Linked DNA regions of Homo sapiens. The protein of the gene in region 5 interacts with the protein of the main gene of each other region in a biochemical or structural test. Each region holds a gene or a part of one and is shown on either strand. Other genes may lie near its edges. The genes, in order: SLC22A11, FCHSD2, RPS6KA1, ZSCAN30, MAST2, ZNF831 and XKR7.

Region 1 (3,500 bases), on a different chromosome or scaffold from region 5:
GGGAAAATGAGGTGGGCCCTAGAGATTTCCCCTGAAACACTAGATGCAAAAATCTGGGTGGGCTCCGTGGAGGAGGTGGCATTAGAGGAGGCCTTGAGGAGGGCAATTCCCTCAGCCCAGCTTTCCTTCCCCTGGCATCTGTGAGCCCAGGATGTCTTCCTGCCACAGGGCCAGCTGTTACAGGGATCTGGGCCCTCCCCTTCACCCACAGGATGACAGCAGATGGCATTCTGCATACAGTGGGCCGGCTGGGGGCTATGATGGGTCCCCTGATCCTGATGAGCCGCCAAGCCCTGCCCCTGCTGCCTCCTCTCCTCTATGGCGTTATCTCCATTGCTTCCAGCCTGGTTGTGCTGTTCTTCCTCCCGGAGACCCAGGGACTTCCGCTCCCTGACACTATCCAGGACCTGGAGAGCCAGTGAGTGACCTGTGATCCCTGGGCATCGGGCTGGGCTTCCTCCTGGGCCAAGATGGAGACAGGCCTGGGCTGCCCAGGGCAAAGGCTCAAGAGTACCAAGGCCTGTGTTTCTGAAACCATTTAATCTTTCCAACAATCCTGCCAGAAATGTATTATTACTATCCCCATACTATTACTAGGGTCAGAGAAAGAAAGTGACTTATCCAAAGTCTCATGGGTAGAAAGTGATCATACCTCATGCAGGAAAATGTAATGGTTGAAAGCCCAGGCTTGGCAGCCAGGTTGCCTGGGCCCACGTTCCCCACCTGCCTGGGCAAGTGACTTAACCTCTCTCACCAAAACTGACAAAGGGAGATACAGATAGTCTCAACTGTCCTAGTGCAATTTTCCCACAAAGAATTTCAGGCCCAGACAGATCAACAGGTGAGTTCTTTCAAACCCTCAGAGAACAGATGGTGCCATCTCACACCCATTCTTTGACAGGGAGAAATGAGGGAGCACTCCCTGGCTGCATTTTATAGCCAGAACCACTTCTGTGGGCTTTAGCCTCCTCCTTTGTAAGATGGTGTTTAGAAAAAACAAACAAAACCCAGCCTGGCTCACAGAGTTGTTTTCAAGTTTAAGGGAAGTATTATTTTAAAGCACCTGGGAAAATGCCAGGCCTGCAGCAAGCACTCTGGACATGTGGTTATTGTGTCCTGGGTGACTGTTCACAGGGCCGCCTCAATTCTGATGGTGACCGAGGTCACAATGATAGTAATAATACTGAGTTCTTATTGTTTTATGTCACCTTATTTAATCGATACAACAACCACATGAGGTGCTATTACAGTCCAATTCCTTTGCCAAGGAAACTGAGATGCAGCAGGGTTATATAACTTGCCTAAGGACACCTGCAGAGACCCGGAGAAGCTGGGACTTCATTTTTTCTTTAATTTAATTGATTTTTGTTGTGTACCTACTATGTTTCAGGCACTGTCCCGCTTGGGTACACAGAAGGGAGTAAAAGCCTAATGCCATAGAGTTTACCCCCCAATAAGACTTGACCGCCATTTTGCCCCAAGCTCCGAGTACATACCCACTTCACCACATGGCACTGCTTTTCTTTGGATTATTCTAGGAAATCAACAGCAGCCCAGGGCAACCGGCAAGAGGCCGTCACTGTGGAAAGTACCTCGCTCTAGAAATTGTGCCTGCATGGAGCCCCTTTAGTCAAAGACTCCTGGAAAGGAGTTGCCTCTTCTCCAATCAGAGCGTGGAGGCGAGTTGGGCGACTTCAAGGGCCTGGCATGGCAGAGGCCAGGCAGCCGTGGCCGAGTGGACAGCGTGGCCGTCTGCTGTGGCTGAAGGCAGCTTCCACAGCTCACTCCTCTTCTCCCTGCCCTGATCAGATTCCCCACCTTACCCGGGCCCTACAGGAGCCTGTGCAGATGGCCATGCCCAACCAATAACGAGACGGTTCCCCTCCCTTTCCCTGCCAGGCTCATGTCTTTACACCTTCACTCAGCCACGCCAACCAGAGACTGGGTTCCAATCTCACCCCACCACATACAGAGCCCTCATCTGTGAAATGAGAATGATCACGTGACCCACCCCCCAGGGCAGGTATCAGGGTGAACTGATCTTAGCACCGGCCAAATAAATGGAACCTGCTGAGAGAGCTGCCAGATACAGGTGTCCAGGTTGTGCACTGGCCCGAGGCACGCAGCCAAGGAGGCGTGTGGGGTCTGAAACTCAGCCCCGGCTACACTGGCCCCACCACCCACCCTAGCAAAGGCTGTGTCCTCTCCAAAAAAAGGAGCTGTTTTAATCACTTTTCATTTACTCATCAGTGAGGGAGGGCTTCCAGCCCTATGGTTACGAAGACGGCCAAACACACCACCAAACACCAGACAGAGGAGGCTGGCAGCAGGTTACCACACACGTGCGCAGAGCCCACGAAGATGACGCTGCACTGAGGCATGGGGCGGGGTGCACTGAGGATCCGAGCGAGCAGCCAGGGCTGCAGGAAGGCAGCTTTGGAGCACAAAGGGGGTGGGGCAACTCCTGGCTTCTGCGGGAAGGTGTAATCAGCTTGTTTCATCATGCTGCAGGCTGGCGAGAAACGGAGCCTTACAAGCGTAGGGATAAGAGGAACCCCTCTTGGTCCCCTCGATGAGGGTTGTTGGGCCGGGGAGCCTCATCCACAGGGCGGAGTGAAAGGGGAGAAGGGGAGCTCACAGGCAGGCCTGCCAAGGCCTTCTGGCTTTGCCAGATGTCAAGGGCAGCACCTAATACTGAACCTTAACTTTCGGCTTTCAACCAAACGGCACCCTTTTGCTGTTTGTTTTCTGGAGGGGACACCTTTTCTTGATTCATGCCCAGACCTCCCTTGTCCAGGCCATGAAAACTCTGGGATGGTCGAGGCCGGCTGCCCATCTCAGATGGGCAAGGAAGCAAAAGTGCAGAGTGGTGGAGGGGCCAGCTTGCAGAAACACGGCCGAACCCGGCCCTGATCCTAGCCCAGGGCTCTTTCCAGCACAGGAGGCTCCTAGCCCTCGTCTCCAACCCTCCATGCCACTGATATCTGTGGCCCTGCCACAAAGTTACCCTCATGCCCTTCCCTGGAGACCCCACTCTGGGCCACCTCAATCTCAGGCCCCTCAACTCACCTCTTTCACCCTGTGTACACTGGGTCAATCACTCCTGCCTCCTCACAGCTCCCAAATCCACCTACTTCCCTTCACTCTGGCTACACCCTGGTTCACACCACGGTTGTAGCTCCAAACTGGTCCCTGATGTCTACATTGCACTCTGCACAACAGCCACCATGCTTATTAAGAAACGCAATCCAAACCAAATCCCTCCCTGCTGAAAGCCCTCCAGTGGCTCACAATAAGGATCACACTTCTCCCCCTGCCTGGTCAGGCAGCCATGGGACCCCAGCCTTTCCTCCCACTTCGGTAAATTTTAAAGGATTCGGATCATACAAAGAATGTTCTTGAACCAGCATGGAATTAAATTAGAAATCAATTATGGAAAGAGATATAGAAAACCTCTTCAAACTATACAACACACTTCTAAGTAACCCACGGGTCAAAGA
Region 2 (3,500 bases), on a different chromosome or scaffold from region 5:
ATTTTCGCAGAGGCGTGGTCTCACTTTGTTGCCCAGGCTATTCTTTAACTCCTGGGCTTAAGAGATCCTCCCACCTCAGCCTCCCAAAATGCTGGGATTATAGGGGTGAGCTACTGGGCCTGGCTGGTTTTAGTATCGTATTAGGTATTACATAGTGCTTCAGACTTACAAGGACCAACAGTTTCAAAGAACACATTTACTAAAGATGATTTTTAGCACAGCTCGCACTTAAGGTTGTAATTCACTATATTCTATATATGTCTACTATTATATCAAAGCTGTATATTTTTCCCTATGAATATTTTTAAATGAACATTATATTAACTTAAGCAACAGCAAAAATAAAATCCTATTTTTTTTCTATTGGATCTACAGCTAAAAAAGATGGCCTTCAATAAACCAGAGAAAGTACATTCTTATTTGGGGGATCTGCTCTCTGCCTAAAGCAAAGAGGAAGTTAAAGGGCCTGGCCAGCTCACAGATTAATATATGTTCTCGAACTTACTTTGAAGTCTTTATGCATATATTTGATCAGCATTGGGTAGGTCATGCTTTGGAGTATTCATTTAATGAAACATTGTGGGGTACTAAACTGATTAAAAATAGAGGCAGGGGTTGGTCCCTCCTGCCCCTTAAAAATGAGAAAACATACTTTCAGTTTTCATGTACTGTACATTAACTCATTTTCTTCCTCATGCTAATTCTATAGTCTGCAGTACAGGAAAACTCCTATCAATCATGCTGTTAGCTACTTAGTAAATTTCCACCATTGAATTGTCAGTGGCCCTTAGATGCCTTTCTTGAAAATATCTGTTTTTCTGAATTAATGTTAAGGAAATATCTATTTTTCTGAATTAATGTTAAGGTGATAATGCCCTATATGGGTAGCTTAAAAGCAGGGTATTTGATTTGTTGGTTTAATCATACACATTTAAGAGCCTCTTACAGCATGCTAACTACTGAGTTAGGCTTTGGGAAGAGACAGATGAGTAAGACATACTACTTATCCTCAAAGAGCTCAATATGGTAGAAGAGAGTGAGATGTATATATATACATACACATATATATACACACACATATATACATATATATACACATACATATATATACATACATACATTATATATATATATATATATATACACACACACACATACACATACATATATACATGATTGCAAATTAGAGTGATGGAAATCACTTACTGCTGGAGGACTGTGGTTAGTAATAATAATAGCTATCTTTTTTATTGCTTAATATTGCCTTGGCATTATCCTAACCATTTAATACATGTTATCCTTTCTCATTTTCTTTGTTATCCTCGTTAAAGTTCATAGCTCATTATTTAAATAATACTCTAACTTATATTCTTATCTTTGCCCTTCTTCAAATGAAATGAAATTGTAACTCTGATGAGCCCCCATAACTGGATAATCTGTATCTAAGCAGCCAAGTACTGCTGAAGAAAAGTTTCGACGGAGCAGATTCATGATCATAAATTAATAGAGAAACCAGTGCAGCAGTTTCAACACTGCTTAGATGGCCTACTGTCTTTTCCCTAGTTAACTTTTCCTACTATTTTTAACAGTTATTTCAACTTTTCCCCCCTCTTCAAACCTCAAACTTACCCCTTCTCTTTTATGCTTAGCAAGTGGGTTTTCTTCCTAATTTACAGAGACGATAGAAACCGTTGGAAGACAGCTTCAATATTGTCCACTTCATCTGTGTTGAAGACTCTTCCAGAGTCTCAGTAGCAGTTGTTCCTGTCTAAAGGTGATCTTTTCACCTCAGCTTTGGATTATATCTCATCCCCTCCTGCCTTCTTAGGGAACAAAACAATTATTTTATGTTCTTTTCGTATTTCCTGGACATTCTGTTCTTACATTAGCAGTTATCTTGGTGATAACAACCCTCATTATGACTGTCTTTTGAGTTACATTCTTCTAATCTGGACTAGTTGCCCTCTGTGTCAGATGCAAGTATTTATCCTGAGATCTTCCTATATGTCTTTGTTGTGTTAGATCTCCAGTTTTCTTTATGATATGTCTTATTTTTTTCTTGATTTATACTGTCCTTTGGTAGAGCACATCCTCCAGTACCTTCTTGCGAAAGTGGGCATGGGAAGTAAGTTTTTTGAGATACTATGTTTATGAAAATGGCATATTATTTGCTTGTACTTGGATATAGAATTAAAGGTTGAAAACTCTTTCATTGAAACATTGGAGTCCATACCTCATTGTTTTCTTCTTTACTGTGTAAGTATTGAGAATCCAAAGCCATCCTAGTTCTTGATTATTTGTATCTGATCTAATTGTTTGTTTTTTCTTTTTTTAGAAGTTTATGGAATATTCTCAGTGTACCCTTTGATTTCTTGGATTAATTCTTCCCTTTTGTTTTCTCTTTCTGGAACTTCCCATTATTAAGATATGATATCTCCTAGCTTGCTTCTTTAAATTTCATTTCTTTCTTATTTTCCATCTTTGTCATTATGTTGTACTTTTTGGGAGACTTCTTCAACTTTACAGTTTCTTTTATTGGACTTTTAATTTTTTCATAGTAGTTTTAATGTATGAGAGTTCTGTTTTCTCCACATCCTTACCAGCATTTTTTATTGCCTGTTGTATTAGTTCGTTTTCACACTGCTTTAAAGAACTACCTGTGGCCGGGCATGGTGACTTACACCCATAATCCCAGCACCTTGGGAGGCCGAGGTGGGCAGATCACCTGAGGTCAGGAGTTTGAGACCAGCCTGCCAACATGGTGAAAATCCATCTCTACTAAAAATACAAAAAATTAGCTGTGTGTGGAGGCATGCACTTGTAGTCCCAGCTACTCAGGGAGGCTGAGGCACGAGAATCGCTTGAACCTGAGAGGTGGAGGTTGCAGTGAGCTGAGATCGCACCACTGCACTCCAGCCTGGGTGACAGAGTGAGACTTCATCTCAAAAAAAAAAAAAAAAAAAAGAAAGAGCTACCTGAGACTGGGTAATTTATGAAGAAGAAAGGGTTAATTGACTCAGTTCCGCATGGCTGGGGAGGCCTCAGGAAACTTACAATCATGGTAGAAGGCAAAGGAGAATCAAGTACCTTCTTGACATGGGGGTAGGAGAGAGGAAGCGAAGGGGGAAGTGCCACTTTTAAACCATCAGATATCGTGAGAACTCAGTCACAATCATGAGAACAGCATCAGGGAAATCGCTCCTATAATCCAGTCACCTCCCACAGGGACCCTCCCCCGATATATGGGGATTACAATTTGAGATGATGAGATTTGAGTGGGGACACAGAGCCAAACATATCACCTGTCTTTTGGATAAAAGTCATTTGACCTGGGATGACATGCTATCTAATTATAGTTTTGATTTATGTTTCTCTGATGGTCAATGATATTGAGCACCTTTTTATATGCCTGCTTGCCATTTATATGACTTTTTTTGAGAAATGTCTATTCAGATTTTTTGCTCATTTTTATTTTTTATTTTTATGTATTTATTTATTTT
Region 3 (3,500 bases), about 19 Mb from region 5:
TCTACAGGTAGCTCTAAGTTAACCTGTCAAAACTGAACTCTCAATTCTCCCCTAAAACCTACTCATCACATAATCTTACCTTGTGGCAACTCCATCCTTCCTGTTACTTAGGTCAAAATCTTAAAAGTCTTTTTTTTTTGAGATGGAGTCTTCCTCTGTCACCCAGGCTGGAGTGCAGTGGCACGACCTCAGATCACTGCAGCCTCCGCCTCCCGGGTTCAAGCAATTCTCCTGCCTCAGCTCCCAAGTAGCTGGGATTACAGGCACCCGCCGCCATGGCTGGCTGATTTTTGTATTTTTAGTAGAGATGGGGTTTCACCATGTTGGTCAGGCTGGTCTCAAACTCCTGACCTCAAGTGATCTGCCTGCCTCGGCCTCCCAAAGTGCTGGGATTACAGGCGTGAGCCACCACGCCTGGCCCTATTTTCCTTATCTTTAAAATCAAAGAATACACTGCTTTACTTTTATCTGTAGCACTTCCCACTACTTAACATAATATTTAATTTGTTTTCTGAGTCTGCCCACCGGCATGTAAGCTCCCTGAGTGTTTTGCTCACTGCTGTATCCCAGCACTTAAACTAGCTCCTAGTACATGGCAGGTATTCAATAAATATCTGTTGAATGAATGGATGAATGACACTTACTGCTGAGGCCATAAGCAAACGGCTTTCCTCTGGGCCCTGTTTGCTCATCTGTAACTTGAGGGGGCTGAACCACCCCACATTTCATTCTTCTCCTCCCCACACTCTGTAAGGCTTTTTTGTTTTGTTTTGTTTTGAGACAGGGTCTGTGTTGCCCAGGCTGGAGTACAGCAGCATGATTCATGGCTCACTGCAGCCTCAATCTCTGAGCTCAAGTGATCCTCCCACCTCGACCTCGCAAGCAGCTGGGACTAGAGGCATGTGCCACCATACCCAGCTAATTTTTAAAACATTTTTTGCAGAGACAGGGTCTCGCTATGTTGCCCAGGCTGCTCTTGAACCCCTGGGCTCAAGTGATCCTCCTGCCTGGGCCTCTCAAAGTGCTGGGATTAAAGGTGTGAGTAACTGTGCCTGGCCTGTACAGTTCCATTCATAGTCAATCCTCTAACTATCAACTACCAATACCTCTCAGATCTCTAACCCTAGTCCAGAACTTTTCCTGAGTCTTGGCTCATAAATCCAACTGCCTACCACAAGGCAACCACTGGATGTTCCACAGAGCCTCAAACTCAACACATCCCACACTAAACTCCTCATGTTCTCATCTTCCTGCTCCTCCTCCCCTAAGCTAATGGAACCTCCCTGGGCATTGTCAAAAAACCTTCAAAGGCTCCCTACCTGCAAGATAAAGCCCAAAGTCCCTACCCTAACATGGGAGGCACAGCCATCATCTGTTCCAGCCTCACTGTCCATTGCATCCCTCAGGTGCCCTGAGCTCAGGCCACCAGGGGCTCCTTCGGTAACGATCATAACCCTATGTCTGTGGAATGCCCGTTCACCTTCAGCACCCAGTGCAGGGCCTAGCACAGAGCAAATGCTAAGTGAACTTTGTGCAATGAATGAACAAATCACACCTCTGAAACACAGAGACAGATACCTTGCAGGTTAGATTAGTAGAGTTTTGCAGGTTAGTTGGTTTTATTCAGATAGTCTTTTCATAGTCTCAGTTGATCTCCAAGCCCTCCAGCAATGCCCGTGGAGCCCGTGGAGTAGGTAGACATGGCCCAGCACAGTCCACCTCCATAGGGAGAAGAGTGCCAGGTAGATGAGGGGGAAAGGGCCACACTGTTAGGGTAGCCCCAGCAACACACTGTATCCAAGCCTTGGAGAAAGTCCCGTGGGCTCCCTCCTTCAAACACAATCGTATGCCCACAGCACAAGGCCAGGCCCCCAGGAATGTGGACTCTACCTAGAGGTCAGGGATGCTCAGCTTGGCTGAGGACACCAACTACCCTGCACAAGTGAACTTCCAGTTTACAAAGAATGTTACCAGTCGTGATCTCACTGGAGCCATCCACTGCACCTCGGCGGGTGGACAGGAATTATTAGCTCCATTTTACAGAGGAGAAAACCAAAGCTCTGAGAGGACAATTTTCTTTTTTTTTTTTTTGAGATGGAGTCTCGCCAGCAGCACAATCTTGGATCACTGCAACCTCCGTCTCCCAGGTTCAAGCAATTCTCATATCTCAGCTTCCCAGTTAGCTGGAATTACAGGTGTGCACCACCATGCCTGGCTAATTTTTGTATTATAGAAACAGGGTTTCACCCTGTTGGCTAGGCTGGTTTTAAACTCTGGCCTCAAGTGATCTTCCCACCTTGGCCTCCCAAAGTGCTGGGATTACAGGTGTGAGCCACTACGCCCAGCCTGAGAGGACAACTCACTTGCATGTAGGTTAGAGGCAGAGGCAAGACCAGAACCCAGTTCTGACCTGAATTCCATAGTCTTTCCAGTTTAGTGTGGCACACATGACACTACTGGGACACAGGGATATGGAAGTTGACCTTTTTTTTAAATTAATTTATTTTTCTGAGATGGAGTTTTGCTTTTGTTGCCCAGGCTGGAGTGCAATGGCGTGATCTCGGCTCAGTGCAACCTCTGCCTCCCAGGCTCAAGCAATTCTCCTGCCTCAGCCTCCCAAGGAGCTGGTATTACAGGCATCTGCTACCATGCCCAGCTAATTCTTTGTATTTTTAATAGAGATGGGGTTTCATCATGTTGGCCAGGCTGGTCTCGAACTGCTGACCTCAGGCAATCCACCTGCCTCAGCCTCCCAAAGTGCTGGGATTACAGGCGTGAGCCACCACGCCCGGCTCAAGTTGTTGATCTTTTTTCCTACCCTAATACAACATAGAGAAACTACAAATTCCTATAGGAAACTGTCTCACCACTGCCAGTGGCAGAATAGTAGGGATGGTGAGTGGGGGAGGGGAAGTACAGCTTTAAAAAGCCCCACAGGTGATTCTGATACCTGACCCTCAGGAGTGTATGTTGGGGGAGGAAAAGTATAGTCTCACATCTCACCGCATGGAAAATCACAACAGGCTGGGCAAGTAATGAGTGAAGCCAGGCAGAGTGGGAACCTCCAAGCAGTCCACAGAGGACAGCAGCTACCTGGCTCCAGCTGACAGTCACTACATAGCAACTCGGACCCAGTGTTTTTAAAAGCAGCCAAATTACCAAACCTTACTAAACCATACCTCAAATCAAAAAACACCCCTTATCTTGCAGGCCAAACAAAATATATGTGTAGGCCAAATGCAGGCACTGGAGCAATAGGCCGTGACCTCCAGGAGAGTTGGGATTCCAGTCACAGGAAGGAGTCGGGCAGGCCAGGGTGTGAATCCTGGCTTTACTATCCACTCACAGCTGTGTGGTTTTGGGCACGACATTTAACATCTGTAGCCCTCAGTTTCCTCACTTGTAAAATGGGGCTGATAATAGTATTCAACCCCAGGCTTATAGAGAAGGACAGGAATATTTAGCAAAGGGCTTGGGAAATGATGGACATCACAGTAACC
Region 4 (3,500 bases), on a different chromosome or scaffold from region 5:
CATGTTAAAGCAATATTGAGTCATCTGATCCATGAACACAATATTTTTCTCAATTTATTTAGGTCTTCCTTAATATCTCTCACCAATATTTTATAGTTCTTTTTAATATTTTACAGATCTTTCATAACTTTTGACAGATCTATTCCTAAGTATTTAATATATTTTGATGCTATTGTATTTTTCCTTTAATTTCAGATTGTTTGTTGGTAATATAATAGAGAAATACAATTGATTTTTGTATATTAATCTTGTATCTTGCAACTTTGTTAAATTCATTTATTAGTTCTAGTAGCTGTTTTTGTAGATTCTATCAGATATTCTACATATGAGATCAGTTTTACTCCTTCCTTTCCAATCTGGATGCCTTTCTTATTTTCAGCGCAGTAAGGCAGGCAAAGGGAGGTGGAGAAAGGCATTCAGATTGGAAAAGAAGAAGTAAAATTGATCTTTATGTATATCAGTGTTCGGTAGAAATGAAGAAAGGGGAAATCTTTGTCTTTTTTCCAATCTTAAGTGAAGATCTTTGTCTTTTTTTTTAATCTTAAGCATCCTTTCTCTGTTAAGCATGATGTTAGCTGTGGTTTTTTTTATTGGTACCCTTTAACAGACTGAGGAAGTTTTTTTCTAATTCTAGTTTGGTGAGAATTTATATCAGGAATGTAGGATGGATTTTGTCAATTGCCTTTTCTGTATCTTTTGAGAAGACAGTTTGTTAATATGGTGATTTACAATGATTGATTTTTGAACATTAAACCAAACCTGCATTCCTGTAAAAAACCCTGCTTCACTGTGATGTATTATCCTTTTTATATATTGTTGGATTTTTCATGAAGAATATTGGCCTATAGTTTTCTTGTAATGTCGTTGTCTAGTTTTGGGATCAAGGTAACGTGGGCCTCAAAGAATGATTCAAAAAGCATCCCATTGTCTTCAGTATTGTTGAAGAGTTTGTACAGAATTGGTATTATTTCTTCCTTAAATATTTGGCAGAATTCACAGTGAACCTATCTGGACCTAGAGTTTTTTTGTGGGAAGGTTTTAAATTACAAATTCAGTTTCTTTAATAGATATGGTGCTATTCAGGTTATATATTTCTTATAGGGTAAGCTTTAGTATTTTGTATCATTTAAAGAATCAGCCAATTTTGTATAAGTTGGCATAAAGTTGTTTATAATATTACTTTGTCCTTTTTGTATCTGTTGAATCTGCAGTGATGTTACCTCTTTCATTCTTGCTATTAGTAATTTGTATCTTCTCCCATTTCCCCTTGTCGGATAGGCCAGAGCTTTGTCATTTTTATCTTTACAGAGAACCAGCTTTTCATTTATTTAAAAATTGTCTTTCATTTTCTGGTCTATTAATGTCCACTCTGTTCCTTATTATTTCCTTTTTTCTCCTTGCTTTGGGTTTAACTTGCTTTTTTTTTTCTGGTTACTTTAAGTGGAAGTTGAGGCCTCTGATTTGTAATATTTCTTATTTTGTGTTATAGAAATTTGGTGCTATAAATTTTCCCCTAAGTACTGCCTTAGCAGCATCTCACAAATTCTGATGTGTTGTCTTTTTATTTTCATTCAGTTCAGAATACTTTGAACTTGGATTATTTCAGTTTCTAAATATTTGGGGGGTTTCTAGAGATTTTTCTGATATTTATTTCTAATTTAATTTTATTGTAGTCAAAGAACATACTGTGTATGACTTGAATCCTTTAAAATCTATTGAGACTCATTAATGGCCCAAAACATGGTCTGTCTTCATAAATGTTCCATGCACATTTGAGAAGGATATATTAATATATTCTGCTGCTGTTGGGTTGACTATTTGATTATTGTTAGTTGGTTAATGGTATTACTGAAGTTTACTATATACTTTGCTGATTTTCTACTAATTTTAAAAGTAATTATTGAAAGATGAGTATTGAATTCTCTGTCAATAATTGTGGTTTTGTCTATTCTCCTTGTGATTCTATCAGTTTTAATTTTATGTATTTTGAAGCTCACAATTTGCATAAATGTTTAGGATTGTTATTCCTTTTCCTTTTTCTCTTTTTTTGAGATGGAGTCTCTCACTCTGTTGCCCAGGCTGGAGTGTTGTTGATGGCAACAGTGGGCCATCTGGACCATCTGGAGTGGCCACTGCCAAGATGCTGGCTGCAGCCAGGAGGCTCTGCCCATGCTGTGAGCTTCACAGAGCCAGAGGGAGCGGGGACAAGCAGGAGCCCAGCTCCTTCCAAGTTGGCGGGTGGGAGCTCCCCAGGCATAGCTGCAGCTGCCCAAGTCATGGCTGCTGGCTGAGCCTCCCTGTGTTCTTGGAGACCAGGAGCAGGCAGGAGCCCTGCTCTCCTGGGTGCAACTGCAGCCACCCAAGTCCTTGCTACAGACCGTGTTCTTGGAGGCTGGGAGCAGGCAGGAGTGCCAAAGCAGGCAGGAGTGCTGGAGCAGGCATGAGCCCTTCCTGCATCCCCCACCTCCTTTGTGCAGCTGTAGCCACCCAGGTTGTGGCTGCGGACCAACCTGGATATCTCTGCACTCTAGGGGCCTGGGAAGGCACCCCCACCTCAGCAGGCTTGGAGGTATCTGCTTCTGCTGCCTGGCCTCTCCCTGCTCCTGGTGACTGCTCTGATCTAGGAGCAAGGTTGGGGCCGAGCCAGGGTGCTGTTGCAGCCCAGCCAGTTGTGCGCATACTTGAGGCAGTGCTGACAGGCCATTCCTCTGCTGCTTCAGCCCCCTCCAGACTTTGGGTGCTGACAAACATAGAAGGGAGGCTGAGGGAAGGCTGAAGGCAGTTCAGCATTTGCCTGCAGGTGCTTGTCCCCACGAACAGCCTGGGCACCATAGAAAGCAGTAGGAGGCGACATGCTCTGAGGCAGAAAGGGGCGGGTCCCCAGAAGGCCTGAAGCCTAATGGCCAGGCCACCAGTCCCCCTGACTGGAGGGGGAACTGGTGGTGCTTTTTCTTGGACCTGCCCATGGCCACCAATGGACCAATCAGCATGCACTTCTTCCTCTCTGAGGCCCATAAAATTCCCTGGACTCAGCCAGACTGGGGGAGAAGACCTGCCAGCAGAGAGGAGCTACCTACTCCAGGGCCTCTTTTCTGCTGAGAGCTGCAGAGACAACAGGAGGACCAACCTGCAGAGAGGAGCTACCCACTTCAGGGCCTCCTCTTTGCTGACAGCTGCAGCGATGATGGGACAAGCTGCCTGCAGAGAGGAGCTACCCACTCCAGGGTCTCCTCTGAGCTATTCTGTTGCTCAGTAAAGCTCCTCCTTCTCAGTAAAGCTCCTCTTCACTTTGCTCAGCCTCCACTTGTCTACATACCTCATTCTATCTGGATGCAGGACAAGAACTTGAGACCTGCTGAATGGTGGGGCTGAAAGAGCTGTAACACAAACAGAGCTGAAACATGCCCCTTGCTCACCACATTGCAGGCAAAGAGGAGAGAAGAGCTGTGGCCCTTCAGGAAGCCCAGACCAGGAAGCTCCCTGAGCCAGGATTGTGACTC
Region 5 (3,005 bases):
CAGAGTGGTTTGGGGTAAGAAGGTAGAAAACAGGCTAATCCGTCCCATTCTGCAGCCCTACCCACAGCTCAGAAGGATCCCTGGGCCTTAGTCAGGGAGGGTACTGCCTTGTGGAGAAAACTCTCTGTTGTGCCACATTCAAGTTCTGTGTGTACCTACATCTTTTTTTTTTTTTTTTAAGACAGAGTCTCACTCTGTCACCCAGGCTGGAGTGCAGTGGTGCGATCTCAGCTCACTGCAACCTCTGCCTCCTGGGTTCAAGCACTTCTCCTGCCTCAGCCTCCCAAGTAGCTGGGATTACAGGCATGTGCTACCACACTCGGCTAATTTTTTTTTTTTTTTTTGGAAACAGAGTCTTGCTGTGTCTCCCAAGCTGGAGTGCAGTGGTATGACCTCAGCTCACTGCAAACTGCCTTCCAGGTTCAAGCAATTCTCCTTCCTCAGCCTCCCGAGTAGCCGGGATTACAAGTGCCTACCACCACGCTTGGCTAATTTTTGTTATTTTTAGTAGAGTTTTGCCATGCTGGGCAGGCTGGTCTCAAACTCCTGACCACAGGTGATCCACCCGCCTCGGCCTCCCAAAGTGCTGGGATTACAGGCGTGAGCCACCACACCCAGGCATTTTTTTTTTTTTTTTTTTGTATTTTTAGTAGAGGCAGGGTTTCACCATGTTGGCTAGGCTGGTCTCAAACTTCTGGTCTCAAGTGATCCACCTGCCTCAGCCTCCTAAAGTGTTGGGATTTACAGGCATGAGCCACCGCGCCCGGCCTGTGTGTACCTACATCCATACTCGGTGTAGATGTGTGTGCACCCAACTCACCCACTCCCCTAACTGCCATCACAGACTCACAGGCTGAGGTCATTCAGGGACCATGCAGGCAGCACGCCCAGCACTAACCTTCAGGATCAGCTCTACCACCTCCGTGTGCACCAGGCCATGCACAGGTTCCCCATTGACATGGGTGATGAGGTCACCTTGACGAAGCCCTGCCTCACTGGCCGGACCTCCATCCTCCACGTGCTGTGCCAGGAAGAGAACAGTACTCAGACTGGAGCCTGAACACGAAGTATGGGGCCTGGTTCTGGACATTAAGCTGTGAGCCCCTTCACCACCACCCTTTGACCCCCGAGCAGGGACAGATGGGCTCCACAAAGGGGAAGCTGGAAGGATGATGAAGCAGGGAGACAGCAGGTCTGGATGGTCAGACATACCCACACCATATGGTGCACGGTGTAGACATCGGAGTCACCCATGTAGACGCGAATGGCCCGCAGGGTGAAGCCATACTTCTTGCCAGCTCGGTGGATGATGATGGGAGGCCTCATGCTGCCAAGGGCTGGCAAGAAGTCCCTGCTTGGAGAAGAGTCCCGGGATGATGGGTTGGACGACTGAGAATGTGGGGACATGGGGCTGGCCAACGGGGAGCAGGTGTGGTGTTCTGGAGAAGGAGAAGCCAGGACTTAGTGGGTCAGAGGGCTTTGGCCTGGCCCCTGGTCCAGTCTGTTGATGTCAGCACAACTCTAGTCACAGACAGAGCCTGAGCCTAGGTCCATTTTCCCCACAGCCCCTGACCTGTGAAGCCCTCTCCCGTGTCCAGACCCCAAGAGACGGTGGTGGTGATGAGAAATGGCAGCTAGCATTTATGTGTGTATCAGGGACTATATAAGCTTGTCATATATATTTAAATGTCACAACCTATCAGCTGGCCTCTATTATATCCACATTTTTGGATAAGAAACTTGAGGCTTAGAGAAGTTAAGCAACTTGCTCAAGGTCAAGAGCCTGTTAGTGATGGAGCCAGGATTTGAGTGTGAGCTCTCTACCCCAAAGCCTGCACTTGTGACATGGTGCTGTCCTGCTTTCTGGCACATGTATACACAACCCCAGACACCAATACACACCTTCAGAGACCACAGTCAGATCTGTGCTTAACACACACACACACACCTGCCACGTGCAGAACCCTCCCAAGGCCTAGAGATTACAAGGCCCTTCCTGTGAGTTTTATCCCAGCTCCCCAGGGGCCTCACCCGAAGGAATGAGGAGTGAGAGGGCTGTGGCTGAGGCGGACTTGATCACTTTGTTGACAGGGCGAGCAGTGCGCTTCTCTGTTGAGTCCCCAGAGAGCAGCCGGTGGCGGGCCCTACGCACAGCCAGGTCACTGATGGCCTTGGCTGTGGCTCCCTCAGCCAGCTGTGAGGTCCCACGGCCTCGGGTCTCCATAGCTGTAGGCCCAAGTAAGCAGTGAGACCCGCGATGCCGCTGAGCCTCCCTGCCCTGCAGTATCCTCCAGCTTAGGTCGTTTGGCCGCCCACTGGGCCATACCTGGACTGGAACCACTGCTCCGGCCAACAGCTTCCTCATCCAGCTTTGGCCGCTGCTCCCCTGAGTGTTCAGTGACAGGCCCAGATACCCCCTCTCCAGATGGGGGTGTCAGGACCCATATACCCTCCTGTGGTTGCCTCCTGAGGGTGCTGCTGGCCTCCTCAGGGCCCTCCGGGAACCGAGGCGCATCCAGGAGGCCTGAGCAGCGGCGTCGCACTGTCATTGGAGGGCTTGAGTCACTCTCTGTGTGGGATGACTCAGACACCGACAGCCGCTTCCGTAATCTATGAGACACAAGGCCTGGGGTGAGTGACCCAGGTGGTCCCCCTCCTCCTGCCAGGTCTCCTTAGGGGCACACAAGGGTTATAGTAACAGAACTTTCCTCCGCAGACATTCCTCCAGGAGCCACCCTTGTGAATGCCCCCTCCCTGCCACCTGCACTCCTCCCTGGCATCGGAATCTCTCCCATGATCTGTGACAATGCAGGGATAGCTGTGTCGCCCACCCTGGGTGAACTCTGGGTGCTCACATCTCAGGGGAGCCAATCACCCAGCTCCGGTCTCGGCCTTTGAGCCCTGCCAGGCCATCTGAATGGTCCTCCTTCTCCTCACTCAGGCTGCGCTTGGTCGGGGGTGGTGTCCGGCGCTCCTCGAGCAGTGAGAGCCGCTCCATGCTGCTG
Region 6 (3,500 bases), on a different chromosome or scaffold from region 5:
ATTTGTGGCACATAGCTAAAGCAGTGCTGGGAGGGAAATTTATAGCACTAAATGTTTACATTAGAAAAGAGGAGCATTTCCCACAGTGTGATGATTTCACACTGCATGCCTGTATCAAAACATTTCATGTACCCCACAAATATATACACCTACTATGTACCCACAAAAATGTTTTAAAATAAACTGCTATTAATTGTTTAAAAAGAAAAAGAAAAAGAGGGAGGGTTTCAAATCAAGACTCTAGACTCCCACTTGACTGTAGTAAAAGGAAAGCATAATAAATCCAGAGCAAGCGGAAGAAAGGAGATAATAAAGGTAGGAGAAGAAATAGGTCAAATCAAAACAGAAAAATAATAGAGAAAATCAATGAAAGAAAGAGCTTTTTCTTGGACAAGATTAATAAAATTCACCTTTTTTTTTTGAGACAGAGTCTTGCTCTATTGCCCAGGCTAGAGTGAAGTGGCATGATCTTGGCTCACTGCAACCTCTGCCTCCTGGGTTCAAAACATTCTCCTGCCTCAGCCTCCCGAGTAGCTGGGATTACAGGTGTCTGCCATCATGCCCGGCTAATTTTTGTATTTTTAGTAGAGATAGGGTTTCATCATGTTGGCCAGGCTGGTCTCAAACTCCTGACCTCAACTGATCCTCCTGCCTCAGCTTGCAACATGCTGGGATTACAGGTGCGCACCACCACACCGGGCTAATTTTTGTATTTTTAGTAGAGACAGGATTTCACCACGTTGGCCAGGCTGGTTTCGAACTCCTGGCCTCAAGTGATCCACCCATCTCAGCCTCCCAAAGTGCTGGGATTATAGGCATGAGCCACTGTGCCCAGCCTAAAATTGGTCTTTAGAATCTCTACAAAAACTGACAAAGGACAAATGAGAGAAGACACAAACTATCAATGTCAGGAAGGAAAATGGGCTATCACTACAGACCCTGCAGACATTAAAATGACCTTAAGGGAATACCGTAAATAACTCAGCTCACATAAATTTGATGACTTAGATGAAGTGGACCAATTCCTCAAAAAGCGCAAACTACCATGATCCACCTAATGGGAAACAGATCATTTGAATCACATGAGAATCACACTATAACTATTTATCAGATTGAATTTGCAATTTTGAAGCTCCCTGCTAAGAAGTCTCCAGGCCCTGATGTGGAGAATTCTAACTTTAAAAGAAGAATTAACACAAATTCGACGCAACTTTATCCGGAAAACAGAAAAGGAAATAACACTTCCCAGTTAATTTTAAGCACCTAGGTATTACCCTGCGACCAAACTAGACAAAGACAGCATGAAAAGACAACTACAGACGAATATCCCTCATGAACACAGACTCAAAACCTCTCCCAAAATATCAGCAAATAGAATTCTGTGATAAGAAAAAAATTATACACCTTGAACAAGGATTCCAGGAATGCATTCAGTATAATCCACCATATTAACAGGGTAAAAAGAAAAATCACATAATTATATCAATTGATGTAGAAAACGCTTTTGACAAAATTCAACACCCATTCATAATAAAATCTCGTTGGAAAATAGAAATAGACGGAAATCTCTTAATGTGATTAAAAGCATCTACAAAACACCAAAGTTTACATTATACTTAACGGTGAAAAACTGAATGTTTTCTCCCTAAGATCAGGAAAAAGAAAGATGTCCACTCTCATCACTCTCATTCAGAAGATGACTGAAAGTTTTAGCCAGTAAAATAAAGCAAGAAAGAAATACAAAATACAGGGAAAGGAAAGACTTGCAAGCAGGAAATGAAAAAATAAAACTATCCCTACTTGCAGATGAGATTATTGTCTACATACAAATTCTCAAAGAATCTACAAAAAAAAAAAAAAAAAAACCTCCTCGCACTAATAAGTGAGTGCAGCAAGGACACAGGATACAAGATCAACACACAAAAGTCAATTACATTTCTATATACTAGCTATGAATGGTTGAAAACCAAAATTAAATGAAAAACGAAATATGTAGTTGTAAATCTAATAAAACATGTACAAGACTTACGCACTGAAAACTACAAAACACTGATGAACTAACTCAAATAAAGTCTAAATAATAAAGAGGCATATTGTGTTCATGCATTGGAAGATTCAACATAGTAAAAATGTCAATTCTCCCTAAATTGATATACAGGTTTAATGCAATTCCTATCAAAACCCTAGTAAGATATTTTTGTGGGCATAGACAAGATTATTCTAAAATTTATATAGAAAGGCAAAAGAACTGGAATAACTCAAACAAGTTTGAAGAAAGATAATAAAGTGTAAAGAATCAGTCTACCTAACTTGATAACTTATTATATAGCCAAAGTAATCAAGACTGTATTGTCAGAATAGACACAGACATGAGTAGAACAAAATAATTAAAAAAAAAAACATAAATCAATCTGCACAAATATACCCAACTGATTTTTTTTTCTTTTGAGATGGAGTCTTGCTCTGTCACCCAGGCTGGAGTGCAGTGGCACGATCTCAGCTCAGTGCAACCTCTGCCTCCTGGGTTCAAGCAATTCTCCTGCCTCAGCCAACTGATTTTTTGACAAAGGTTGAAAGCAGTTCTGTAGAGAGAGTGTAGATGTTTCAACAAATGATGCTGAAACAATTGACTTCCGCAGGCAAAAGAAAAAAGAAAAAAAAAACCTTGACCTAAACCTCACATCTTACTTATATAGAAATTAACTCAAAATATTTAAAACAGTCTTAAATGTGAAATATAAAACTGTAAAAGCTTAGGGGAAAAAAAGCACAGGAGAAAATCTTTAGGACTTCTAAAGTGGGAAAGAGTTCCTAGACTTGAAACAAAAAGTATGAGCCATAAAAGGAAAATATAATAAAATGGACCTCATCGAAGTTAATTTTTTTTTTTTTGCTCTGTGCAAACCCCTGCTTATAATAAGAGAATAAAAAACTAGCTACAGATCTGGAGAAAGTATTCACAAACAACATATCTGACAAGGGACTTATATTTAAAATCTATACAGAACTATGAAAATTTAACAGTTAAAAAAAAACCAACAACAATCCAATTAGAAAGTGTGCAAACACATGAAGCAAGTTATCACCAAAAACGGTATACAGCCAGCAGATAAGCACACGAAAAGGTGTTCAACATCTTTAGCCACCTGGGAAATATAAATTAAAGCCACAATAAAATATCACTTCACACCTGTCAGAATGGCTAGAATAAAAAATAGTGAAACAGCAAATGCTGGCGAGGATCTGGAAACACTGCCCACGTTGCCAGGATCCATTTCGGTGTGGATGTGAAGTGGCACAGCCATTCTGGAAAAAAGGGTGGCCATTTCTTAACAAATCAAACATGGGACTATTATTCAACCCAGCAACTGCACTCCTGGGCATTTATTTCACAATGAAAACTTACGTTCACACAAAAGCTTGTACATGAATGTTTCTAAAGCTTTATTTGTAATAGTCAAAAATTGGCATCAGCCCAGATGCCCTTCAACAATGAATAT
Region 7 (3,500 bases), on a different chromosome or scaffold from region 5:
CTAGGCAACAGAGCGTGACCATCTCAAAAAGCAAAAAAAATAAAAAAAAAAAGTAGGAGAAAAAAGTCCTTTGCGGACCAAACCAACACTCTTGAGGCTGGATTTGCCCATAGGCCACTGATTTGCAACCTGTGGTCTGGTGGTTAAACATCATGGAAGCGAGTATCATAAAGTCCCAAGGATAGAGCTACAGACACAGAACTAAGGGGCTTTAGAGATCATCTAGTTTATCCTCCAGACTGAAGCAAGAGTCCCTGATACAGCATCCCTGCCAAAGTTAGCCACTTCCATCTGGACACCTCTGCTGATGTGGAGTTCACACCCTCGGGAACAGCCTGATTGACAGTGTGTTCTTGCTTCTATTCCAAAGACTGTGCCTCCCTTTACTTTGAGTTCGCATCTGCCCTCACAGTATCTCTGGAGCCATAGAACAACTCTCCTTCCTCGATAGGGGGTCAGTGGGTGAGAGTTAGGACCCCTTATGCCCCTGTCCTAACCCCATCTTGTTACTAAGCAAGTAGGATGGGCTGTGACTTGGGCCAATAATAATAGTCATTGTAGTAGATGTTTTCTGGGCATATACTATGTGACAAGCCCTGTGCATTTACATTATCTCAAGACATCCTTATAAAAACCTTAAGATGTGGATACTATCACTATCCCCATTTCACAGATGAGACAGGAGCTGTGGCTGGTGGAGCAACTTCCCCAGGGTCACGCAACTAGGATGTCATGGCTCCTTGATCTGCGCTGGTGCCCCAAGCTCTCAGCTACTCTGCTTTCTTGTCCAAGTCCTAGGAAAACTCACCAGAATTCTGAAGTTACTTTACAGATGGAGTAACTGAACCCTAGGTGCGAAGTGACTTGTCCAAGATTCTGATCTCAAAGGTTCAATCCAGTTCACACCAACATTTATTGAGTACCTACTGCATACAAGGAACTTGACTTCCTCCATCTCCTAAGTCAGCCACAACTGTATCATTCTGGGAACCCAACCCAGGGTTGTTCCTACTACCTCCTCTTTCCTTAGCCTTAGGCCGTGGACAGTTTTAAAGGCTGTGGATGTAGGCCTAACAGACCTCAGTGCTGTGTCCACAACTGCAGAAAGCTCGCACATTCAGCACCCTGCCAAATGCCAGCTTCAACTGGCTTCATGTTGCAAGAACCCACCATAGACCTCACTAGAGCTGGCTGGGTGCAAGACCACCAACAGTAACAGAGGATCTAATCTGTGCTAGTCACCATGGGAGACAGAAAGAAAAAGCAACAAAGCCTCAACTCCCCAGGGGTTTGTGATCCAGCGGGAAAGCCAGCCAGGTGGGTAGATGATCACAACAAAATGTGATCAGTGCTGTGGGGTAAAAAGGAATGAGTAATTGTGCCTGGGGAGGAAGTCTGAGGGGAAGAACCCAGAATGTTAACAGTGGGGACTTTACATTAAAATACAAATTTAAAAATACTTTTCTGGCCTGGTGTGGTGGCTCACGCCTGTAATCCCAGCACTTTGGGAGGCCGAGGCAGGTGGATCGCCTGAGGTCAGAAGTTCGAGACCAGTCTGGCCAATATGGTGAAACCCCGTTTCTACTAAAAATACAAAAATTAGCTGGGTGTGGGGGTGGGCACATGTAATCCCAGCTACTCGGGAGGCTGAGGCAGGAGAATCGCTTGAACCGGGGAGGCAGAGGTTGCAGTGAGCCGAGATCGAGCCACTGCACTCCAGCCTGGGAGACAGAGCGAGACTCTGTCTCAAAAAAAATAAAAAAAAATAAAAATACTTTTCTGATATTTTTTCTTCTGCTTCTCTAAACAATACATGATTGATTGTTTGTAAGAATACACTTAACTAGCAGAAGACAGTATAGTTTGGTGGTTCCACATGTGGGTTTGGGAGCCTGACCTCATGGCTTCAAACCCTAGCTTTGCTCCTTATGAATTGGAAGGCCACTCTTCTCTGTGCCTCAATTTCCACATCTGTAAAATGGGGCCAATAATGCTAGCAAACACTAACTGAGCACCACTATGTGCTGAGTACTGTGCAGAGCACATATATATTAATTGAATCAGCCTTCACAATGGAGACCTGGGTAGGGATTGTTATGATGCCCATTTCACAGATGAGAAAGCTGAGGTCCAGAAAGGTTAAGTGACTTGCTCAAAGCCACACAGCTCATATGTGGCAGAGCCAGGGTTTTGGGTCTACAGTTCTCTTCTTCATCCTCGCAGTCTCTACCTGGCAGGATTGTCAAGAGAAATGATCGAATCTAAGTCTTAATAAACAGTAAGTATAATAAATTTCATTTTTATACTGATTTTTAAAAAATAGACAAATCTATACATGCATTTTTTTAGCTAACTGAAAACCAGAGGCAAAATCTTCAAGCAATGCAAGAAATATCTACTTAATAAGTGGAAATCTCCCCTGACCCCACCCCTCCCGCCCCAAGAGATAATGAGCAGAGGGGAATCTCTTTATGCCTTTTCTATATTGCCTGAGGTTTCAACAAGAATGTATAGCTTTTTGATCAACAGACAAAACAGCCAAACATTTTCCACTTTAGAACAATGACTTTTGCCTGGTTGAGTGAGTGGGAGGTGGTTTCTGGGGGGCAGAGGGTAGCATGTGTGGGATTTGTTCAGAGAAAGCTTCTTAGAAGAGGTGGCATTTGAGCTCAGCCTGGAAGGACGTGCAGAATTTCACTGGGAGGAGACTGGAAACTGGTGTTGGGTGTTGCTGGAGGAAGGACTGCAGGCAATGGAGAGCAAGGGGGTGGGGAGCAGGTTGTCATGTGGGTAGAGCAGGGAGGAAAGACAAAAGATCAGGGGGCAAAGGGCCTCAAAGCCAGGCTAAAGCACAGGGACTTGCTCTAGGGACATAGGGGAGCCATCGCTCTGCCTGCAGGTGGAGGCGGGATTGGGGGTTGGGGGTGATAACCGGAGGCTGATAGGATTTCCCAGGGGAGGAATTTGGATGCCCTAACAAAGGCAGGGTGGTGAACAGAGAGGCCAGAGAAGATCCCAACCATCCTCCCTCCTCTCCCCAGGGACCTGCGCCCCAGATGCTGGGTTCAAAGCCATTTCCTGGCAGCCCTCCGCCCTCCCACTCCCCAGAGCTTCTCCTGTGTGGTCTTTATAGATCAAACAGGGGACGCTGGGCCCAACCGCCGCCGCTGTGTCTGTTAGGAGCAGCTCTAATGGTCCATGGCAGCTGGATGGGCAAGGGGAGGAGGCAGGGTGGGGGTGGAGAGCCTCCTGGAGAGGGGTCTCCCAGGAGGTGAGTGGTGAGGCCCAAACTGGAACAACCCTACAAAGGCAGAGCAGGGAGGAACCTCATGGATGGTCACTGAGTTCAGGGGACTGTAATCAAGTGTCAGCTGTAGGACAGATTATTCAAAACAAAATCTTAGACATGTCATAAAAGAGACATTCAGAGATACTTGGGTTAAAATGATGGAGACAGGGCTATAAAACACAGTTTGAAAATGATGGAATCCAACCCCTGA

What was found.
Region 1: the proteins of MAST2 (region 5) and SLC22A11 interact in a test that uses a peptide from one of them, tested with the Homo sapiens proteins (one large-scale study listed by IntAct).
Region 2: the proteins of MAST2 (region 5) and FCHSD2 interact in a test that uses a peptide from one of them, tested with the Homo sapiens proteins (one large-scale study listed by IntAct).
Region 3: the proteins of MAST2 (region 5) and RPS6KA1 interact in a test that uses a peptide from one of them, tested with the Homo sapiens proteins (2 studies listed by BioGRID and IntAct, with this or other methods).
Region 4: the proteins of MAST2 (region 5) and ZSCAN30 interact in a test that uses a peptide from one of them, tested with the Homo sapiens proteins (one large-scale study listed by IntAct).
Region 6: the proteins of MAST2 (region 5) and ZNF831 interact in a test that uses a peptide from one of them, tested with the Homo sapiens proteins (one large-scale study listed by IntAct).
Region 7: the proteins of MAST2 (region 5) and XKR7 interact in a test that uses a peptide from one of them, tested with the Homo sapiens proteins (one large-scale study listed by IntAct).

What each region holds. Positions count from the first base shown.
Region 1 is NC_000011.10:64,569,441-64,572,940, forward strand, and holds the end of SLC22A11 (solute carrier family 22 member 11), read left to right. Parts: intron 1-211; coding exon 212-418; intron 419-1,538; coding exon 1,539-1,602; 3' UTR 1,603-3,435; downstream 3,436-3,500. UniProt on the Homo sapiens protein: Antiporter that mediates the transport of conjugated steroids and other specific organic anions at the basal membrane of syncytiotrophoblast and at the apical membrane of proximal tubule epithelial cells, in exchange for anionic compounds.
Region 2 is NC_000011.10:72,978,319-72,981,818, reverse strand, and holds part of FCHSD2 (F-BAR and double SH3 domains protein 2), read left to right. Parts: intron 1-3,500. UniProt on the Homo sapiens protein: Adapter protein that plays a role in endocytosis via clathrin-coated pits. Contributes to the internalization of cell surface receptors, such as integrin ITGB1 and transferrin receptor.
Region 3 is NC_000001.11:26,567,761-26,571,260, reverse strand, and holds part of RPS6KA1 (ribosomal protein S6 kinase alpha-1), read right to left. Parts: intron 1-3,500. UniProt on the Homo sapiens protein: Serine/threonine-protein kinase that acts downstream of ERK (MAPK1/ERK2 and MAPK3/ERK1) signaling and mediates mitogenic and stress-induced activation of the transcription factors CREB1, ETV1/ER81 and NR4A1/NUR77, regulates translation through RPS6 and EIF4B phosphorylation, and mediates cellular proliferation, survival, and differentiation by modulating mTOR signaling and repressing pro-apoptotic function of BAD and DAPK1.
Region 4 is NC_000018.10:35,283,730-35,287,229, reverse strand, and holds part of ZSCAN30 (zinc finger and SCAN domain-containing protein 30), read left to right. Parts: intron 1-3,500. UniProt on the Homo sapiens protein: May be involved in transcriptional regulation.
Region 5 is NC_000001.11:46,030,612-46,033,616, reverse strand, and holds part of MAST2 (microtubule-associated serine/threonine-protein kinase 2), read right to left. Parts: coding exon 2,856-3,005; intron 2,611-2,855; coding exon 2,327-2,610; intron 2,227-2,326; coding exon 2,032-2,226; intron 1,440-2,031; coding exon 1,213-1,439; intron 1,022-1,212; coding exon 899-1,021; intron 1-898. UniProt on the Homo sapiens protein: Appears to link the dystrophin/utrophin network with microtubule filaments via the syntrophins. Phosphorylation of DMD or UTRN may modulate their affinities for associated proteins. Functions in a multi-protein complex in spermatid maturation.
Region 6 is NC_000020.11:59,166,821-59,170,320, reverse strand, and holds part of ZNF831 (zinc finger protein 831), read right to left. Parts: intron 460-3,500; exon of another isoform or gene 1-459.
Region 7 is NC_000020.11:31,974,651-31,978,150, reverse strand, and holds part of XKR7 (XK-related protein 7), read right to left. Parts: intron 1-3,500.